Homo sapiens: one gene and its partner. The protein of the gene in region 1 interacts with the protein of each later gene in a biochemical or structural test. Each region holds a gene or a part of one and is shown in the gene's direction. Other genes may lie near its edges.

Region 1 (3,765 bases):
AGGATTACAAGCGTGATCCACTGCACCTGGCCAATTTAATAGTAATGCCAAATAAAGTCTACTTAAGTGCCACTATAGTATGGTCTCCAATACTGCAAAACCTTGTTCTGATCCAATAAAAAGGGACCACACAACTCAATAGAGGCAAAGCTGATTTTAACCTCCAGGGCTCTGGAACAGCAAACCAGTGCAACTCAACACATTTTTCTTGACTGCATAAAAACGTAGACCCTATTAGGCTATTCCCTGGCTTAAAATCCTGTGATGGCTCTCTATTGCTTTTAGGATAAAATGGGGTCAGCTTATTAATATGTCCTGCCTGACCCTCCTCAAAGAAGGCAAGGTGTATCTGGATTTATTTTCATGTTTTAGCTGACAGACTTCTTGTGTTACGGTTTTAGAATGAAGCTCGTAAATTAAATCACCAGGAAGTTGTGGAAGAAGATAAAAGACTAAAATTACCTGCAAATTGGGAAGCCAAAAAAGCTCGTTTGGAGTGGGAACTAAAGGAAGAGGAAAAGAAAAAGGTTAGGAACTATTCTATCTTCATAAGTGATTTAGTCAATCATTCTGTTGTATCAAGACACTACAACATGGTGGTTGTATACACTGGCTCTTAGGCCAAGCTGCCAGAATTGAAATTCTGGCTCTGCTCAGTACCAACTGCAACACGTTGGGTGAGTTTATTTAACTTCTCTGTACCTCTGTTTTCTCATCAATAAAACAGGGACTGTAACAATAATTATTTGAGTTCATTATGAATTAAGTGAGTTAATGCATGTAAAACATTTAAAACAAGGTCTGACACCTGATAAACACTCAATAAGTATCATGTGCTCACTTATATACCATAGTATATTCCCAAATTTCCTTTAAATGCTATTAAAGTGGCCGGGTGCAGTGGCTCATGCCTGTAATCCCAGCACTTTTGGGAGGCCGAGGCTGGCAGATCATTTGAGGTCAGGAATTTGAGACCAGCATGGCCAACATGGTGAAACCCCATCTCTACTAAAAATACAAAAATTAGCCGGGCATGGTGGCATGTGCCTGTAGTCCCAGCTACTTGGGAGGCTAAGAGATGAGAATCCCTTGAACCTGGGAGGTGGAGGTTGCAGTGAGCTGAGATCGCGCCACTGCACTCCAGCCTGCGTGACAGAGTGAGTGAAACTCCAACTAAAAAAATACTATTAAAGTATTGGTTGATATTTATTGGATCTTTCTTGATGTAAAGTAGATCAAATTATTGCATGTATCATAATTGTAGGTGTCAGCTTTTTTCTTCTTTTTAGGAATGTGCGGCAAGAGGAGAAGACTATGAGAAAGTGAAGTTGCTGGAGATCAGTGCAGAAGATGCAGAAAGATGGGAGAGGAAAAAGAAGAGGAAAAACCCTGATCTGGGATTTTCAGGTCAGATTGACCTTTATTGAACCTTATTGACTGGGCTGTTAGTCATTTCCTTCATTGTTTCTGGTTTCAAGAAAGGATGTGCCTCTTGTGCTTCGTGGGATATTCTTGATGAGGCTTAAGACCAAGAAAAGTACAAATATGTCTCTTAGGAGAGAAGTTAAAAAAAAAGGCTGTACTTCAGTTAGCCAGGTTTTTAAATACTTGATGATAAAATTTATCAAAGTCTGTTTGTCAGCATCTTCAGGATAGAAGCTATGCTTAGAATAGTGTTATGGGCATATATTACTTCACACAGATTGAGTATCCCTAGTATGAAAATCTGAAATCCCAAATGTTGCAAAATCCAAAACTGTTTGAATGCCAACATGGTGCTATGATGCTCAAAGGAAATGCTGATTGGAGCATTTCAGATTTTGAATTTAAGTATAATAAAGATATTCCAAAATCTGAAAAAAATCAGAAACACTTCCGATTCCAAGCGTTTTGGATAAAAGATACTCACCTGTGATAATTTAGATTTTTCTCTCAATAGGAAGGTCCAAACAAGGAAATATATTATCGCTGATTCTCATTTTATATTTTTAGATTATGCTGCTGCCCAGTTACGCCAGTATCATCGGTTGACCAAGCAGATCAAACCTGACATGGAAACATATGAGAGACTGAGAGAAAAACAGTAAGTCCTTTTTCAACCTGAGGTGATGTGGATGTATTTGTGTGTGTGTGTGTGTATACATGTACATAAATAGAAACATGCTTTAATGCTAAGGTATGGGTTATTAATAGTTGTCTAAGGATGGTCTCTGTTTTTTCTGGATATTTTTTTCCTTTGAGATGGAGTCTTGCTTTCTCACCCAGGCTGGAGTGCAGTGAATGGTGCGGTCTCAGCTCACTGCAACCTCCGCCACCTGGGTTCAAGCAATTCTTCTGCCTCAGCCTCCTGAGTAGCTGGGATTACAGGCGCCCGCCACCACGCCCAACTAATTTTTGTAGTTTTAGCTGAGATGGGGTTTCACCACGTTGGCCAGGCTGGTCTTGAACTCCTGACCTCAAGTGATCCGTCCACCTCAGCCTCCCAAAGTGCTGGGATTACAGGCGTGAGCTACTGCGCCCGGCCCTTCCTTTTTTTTTTTTTAAGAGACGGTGTCTCGCTCTGTTGCTTAAGCTGGAGTGCATTGACACTGTCATAACTCACTGTAACCTCAAACTTGTGGCCTCAAGGGATCCTCCCACATCAGCCTCCCCAGTAGCTAGGATTACAGACATGTGCCACGATTCCTGGCTAATTAATTTTTTTGTGGAGACGGGGTCTCACTGTGTTGCTCAGGCTGTCTCAAACTCCTGGCCTCAAGTGATCCTCCATCCTTGGCCTCCCACATGGTTGAGATTACAGGTGTGAGCCACTGTGCCAGGCCTAGTCTCTGTTTTGACAGCACTGTTTATTGCTTACTTCACAGCTATTAAATTAATCACATGTTTTTTGTTTTGTTCTTAACTGGGCATTCTAAGACTGGTTGTTGATTGGTTAACACCCTGATTGTCGTAGTTACTTAGATATTATTTTAGGAGGCAGAATGCTTTAGTGCTGGGGTTGGTGAACTTTTTCTGTGAAGGACCAGATAGTAAATATTTTAGCTTTGTGGGCCATATAGTCTCTGTCACAGCTATTCAGCTGTGCTGCTGCAGTGCAAAAGCAGCTGCAGAGAATTCATAAATGAAGCCTCTTTTCATAAACAGGTGGTGGGCTGCTGTAGTTTGGCAGCTTGTTTTAGTGGAAAAGGAAATAACCTCAGGATGGAGCTCTAATCCCAGCTCTGTTCCTAGCACTTTGTGACCTCTGATAAGTCCTGGAGCCTCTCTGCCTGTTGGCTCTTTGATCTGTACAGTGAAGGTGTTGGCGTAGATGATGTCTTAGGTTCCTTTCAATTCTGTAATTTTTTATTTTTTATTTTTATTTTTATTTTTTTTTTGAGATAGAATCTCGCTCTGTCGCCCAGGCTGGAGTGCAGTGGTGCAATCTTGACTCACTGCAGCCTCCGCCTCCTGGGTTCAAGTGATTCTTCTGCCAAGTAGCTGGGACTACAGGTGCCCGCCACCACGCCTGGCTAATTTTTTTGTATTTTTAGTAGAGATGGGGTTTCACCATGTTGGCCAGGCTGGTCTTGAACTCCTGACCTCAGGTGATGTGCCCACCTTGGCCTCCCAAAGTGCTGGGATTATTGGTGTGAGCCACTGCACATGGCCCTATTTTTTTTTTTTTGAGACAGAGTCTTGCACTGTCGCCTGGGCTAGAGTGCAGTGGCGTGATCTCGGCTCACTGCAACCTCCGCCTCCCGGGTTCAAGCAATTCTCCTGCCT
Region 2 (3,740 bases), on another chromosome or scaffold:
GGAGCAGAAGAGGAAGAGGTAAGGTGGGGCAAGCAAATGAGATTAAAAAGTTAGTGGCCAAGAAGTTGGGGGTGCACGCCTGTAATCTTAGCAATTTGGGAGGCCGAGGCGGGTGGGTCACTTGAGTCCAGGAGTTTGAGACCAGCCTGGGAAATATGGCAAAACTGTCTCTACAAAAAATAGAAAAATTAGCTGGGCGTGGTGGCGGACACTTGTGGTCCCAGCTGCTCGGTAGGCTGGGGTCGGAGGATTGCTTGAGCCTGGGAGGCAGAGGTTGCAGTGAACCAGGATCGTGCCACTGCACTCCAGCCTGGGCGACAGAGAGAGATCCCATCTCAAAAAAAAAAAAAAAAAGTAGTAAGTTCCAGTGGGACTGGGGAGAGAAGTAGAGGGTAGAAGGTGGAACCAGCGCTGCTTATTGATGTCAGGTTGTTCATGGAGAGTGTTCCTAGACCTGCGGGGTTTGAGGATGAAGATAACCTGGGTAGGCTGGGCGCGGTGGCTCACGCCTGTAATCCCAGCACTTTGGGAGGCCGAGGCAGGCGGATCACGAGGTCAGGAGATCAAGACCATCCTGGCTAACAGTGAAACCCTGTCTCTACTAAAAATACAAAAAATTAGGCTGGCGTGGTGGCAGGCACCTGTAGTCCCAGCTACTTGGGAGGCTGAGGCAGGAGAATGGCGTGAACCCAGGAGGCAGAGCTTGCAGTGAGTGGAGATCACACCACTGCACTCCAGCCTGGGTGACAGAGTGAGACTCCGTCCGTCTCAAAAAAAAAAAAAAAAGAAGATACCCTGGGTAAAAGAGAAGGAGAGCGAGTCCTTCTTGTGTGCTTTTGACCCCTCTACTGAAGAAATGCTAAATAGTAGGAACAGCAACCCAACCACTGAGGGTTTTGAATATATACTTCAAAATTCTAAGGGAAAAACCTTCATGCTTATAGTTGAATTTATAAGGGTGAGTGATGTGGAAAAGAGCGTTGGGAAGCAGCGCCTGTTTGTGTTCTAGTCTGGGGACTTGGTCTCGTTTGGAACAAGCAGCAGTTTGCAAAGGCCTAAGCCTAGTGCTTCACTTTGACTTAGTGGTTCTGTTTCCTTTTCTCCGTAGTTAGAGGCACGTGATGGGGCTTCCTTGCCTTTCTGTCTCCAAACTCTTTCTCTCTCTTAACTGCTGTGGGTATTTTAGAAGGAAGACTCGCCAGCCAGATGCCAAAGATGGGGATTCATACGACCCCTATGACTTCAGTGACACAGAGGAGGAAATGCCTCAAGGTGAGTGAGCCCACTTACTGATGAAAGAGGTTGTTCCTGTGACTCTTGGACTTTTCCAGTTGCTCTGTGCACTTTATTTTCTTGTGGACTCCTGTTTGTTTGGCTCCCTGCTTGGGGCCTATGTCCAAGAGGTTTGTCCCAAGAGAGCTTCAGGGGAAACTTTGGAAAAAGCTTTGCTATATTATATACACCTCCTTGATGAACTGTGCTGTGCTGTTTCACCTGGTATAAGCATTTCAGATAATATATACATTGAGGGTCTCCTGCCTGACTAAATTCCTTCATCATCCAATGAAGATTTCCCTATATCCTAATTGTTCTGCCTGGCCCCATAAGAACCCTAGGAAATAGGAGTGTTCAGCAGGCTGAGTGAGAGATTGGGAGTGGAGATGATTTCTCTAGTGTTTGTGGAAATGGCTTCACCTTGCTTATCTTCCCCATCTCTACAACCATCAACCCTCTGAAGTACACACTCCAAAGACGGCAGACTCACAGGAGACCAAGGAATCCCAGAAAGTGGAGTTGAGTGAATCCAGGTGAGTACGGATGTTGCTCCTGCCCCTTCAAGAATTCTGTGTATCGCTGAGGAAGGGACTTTGTTCCCTTGGAGAGGGTGGGAAACAAACTGCTGGTCATCAATAGAACTCAAAACTAGAGGCCTGCAGCTTTTAACATTTTATATTCTCATTTAATTTCAAACTTACTGAAAAGTTATGAGAAAAGCATGAAGAACTTCTGGATGTCCTTTACCCAGAATCTTCAGTTGTTTAAATTAATAATTCTCTCTTTCTGAGAGAGAAGAGTTTTACAATAAGGATAAAACTTAATGTCTTACTGTAACCTCAGATTCTTCTTGGTGGGATAGATACATTTTGGCCATTTGTTTTTGAAATGAAGAATTTTTACCACCAGGGTTTTAGGAAACATTTTTATCTATGAATTTTGTTTACTGGACACCAAGAAACTCCATAGCCAAGTTTTACGTTTTTTCTTTTTATACTTTAAACACATAATACAGTGTATTTACTGAAAAAAATTTGAAACACATTGAAAAGTATTTAGAAAAAAAATTAAAATCAATTGTAACTCTATCCCTCAAGGACAACCATCAACTGTATCTTAAAATGCTTGAATCAGCTCGTATAGATCTCACTTTTTTTTTTGAGACCGGAGTGCAGTGTTTATTTTTTACTTTTTTACAGTGTTTATTTTTTACTTTTTGTAGAGACGGGATCTCACCATGTTGCCCAGGCTGGTCTTGGACTCCTGGCCTCAAGCAGTCCTTCTACCTGAGCCTCCCAAAAGGCTGGGATTACAGGCATAAGCCACTGTGCTTGTTTGATCTCATTCTTTTTAATGACTGCAGGGTTTCCATGGTATGGATGGGTAAAAATTTAATGAAATTCTCTGATGATAGACATTTGGGTTGTTCCCTGTTTACAGTAAAACAGTATTAAATTTATCAGTGTGCACTCATGCAAGTATAGCTATAAGGTGAGTTCCTAGAAATGGGCTCCCTGGGCCAAAGGATATACGCTTTTAAGGGTTTAGTAAGTGCTGTTAAATTGTCCCGCATTGACGCTGACCGGGTTACTATTTTACAGTGAATGGGAATGCCAATTTCCCACACGCTAGTACAATAGTTTAGCTTTAAAGGGGGCTCCTCAAGGGTAGCACTGCCATCAGAGGCAGATGTGTGTGTGAGAAAGAATATTGAGGGGACGCCTCTACTGTATTAATACTATGGATTTTCCTAGTATAGCTGTTTCCTGAGAGCATTTGGGTTTGTTTACTCCTCTTCCCCCTTTCTTCTGTCTGGGGCAGGTTGAAGGCATTCAAGGTGGCCCTCTTGGATGTGTTCCGGGAAGCTCATGCGCAGTCAATCGGCATGAATCGCCTCACAGAATCCATCAACCGGGACAGCGAAGAGCCCTTCTCTTCAGTTGAGATCCAGGCTGCTCTGAGCAAGATGCAGGATGACAATCAGGTCATGGTGTCTGAGGGCATCATCTTCCTCATCTGAGGAGGCCTCGTCTCTGAACTTGGGTTGTGCCGAGAGAGTTTGTTCTGTGTTTCCCACCCTCTCCCTGACCCAAGTCTTTGCCTCTACTCCCTTAACAGTGTTGAATTCAACTGAAGGCGAGGAATGTTGGTGATGAAGCTGAGTTCAGGACTCGGTGGACCCTTTGGGAATGGGTCATGAAAGCTGCCATGGGGTGAGGAAAGAGGAGACAGTGGGAGAGGACAATGACTATTGCATCTTCATTGCAAAAGCACTGGCTCATCCGCCCTACTTCCCATCCCACACAAACCCAATTGTAAATAACATATGACTTCTGAGTACTTTTGGGGGCACAACTGTTTTCTGTTTGCTGTTTTTTTGTTTTGTTTTTTTTCTCCAGAGCACTTTGGTCTAGACTAGGCTTTGGGTGGTTCCAATTGGTGGAGAGAAGCTCTGAGGCACGTCA

The links. The genes of interacting proteins can lie anywhere in the genome.
Region 2: the proteins of SYF2 (region 1) and MCM3 form a complex in vitro, tested with the Homo sapiens proteins (one study listed by BioGRID).

The regions. Positions count from the first base shown.
Region 1 is NC_000001.11:25,225,760-25,229,524, reverse strand, and holds part of SYF2 (pre-mRNA-splicing factor SYF2), read left to right. Parts: intron 1-401; coding exon 402-527; intron 528-1,289; coding exon 1,290-1,407; intron 1,408-1,992; coding exon 1,993-2,083; intron 2,084-3,765. UniProt on the Homo sapiens protein: Involved in pre-mRNA splicing as component of the spliceosome.
Region 2 is NC_000006.12:52,264,143-52,267,882, reverse strand, and holds part of MCM3 (DNA replication licensing factor MCM3), read left to right. Parts: coding exon 1-18; intron 19-1,186; coding exon 1,187-1,272; intron 1,273-1,738; coding exon 1,739-1,808; intron 1,809-2,474; exon of another isoform or gene 2,475-2,497; coding exon of another isoform or gene 2,498-2,648; intron 2,649-3,096; coding exon 3,097-3,295; 3' UTR 3,296-3,740. UniProt on the Homo sapiens protein: Acts as a component of the MCM2-7 complex (MCM complex) which is the replicative helicase essential for 'once per cell cycle' DNA replication initiation and elongation in eukaryotic cells.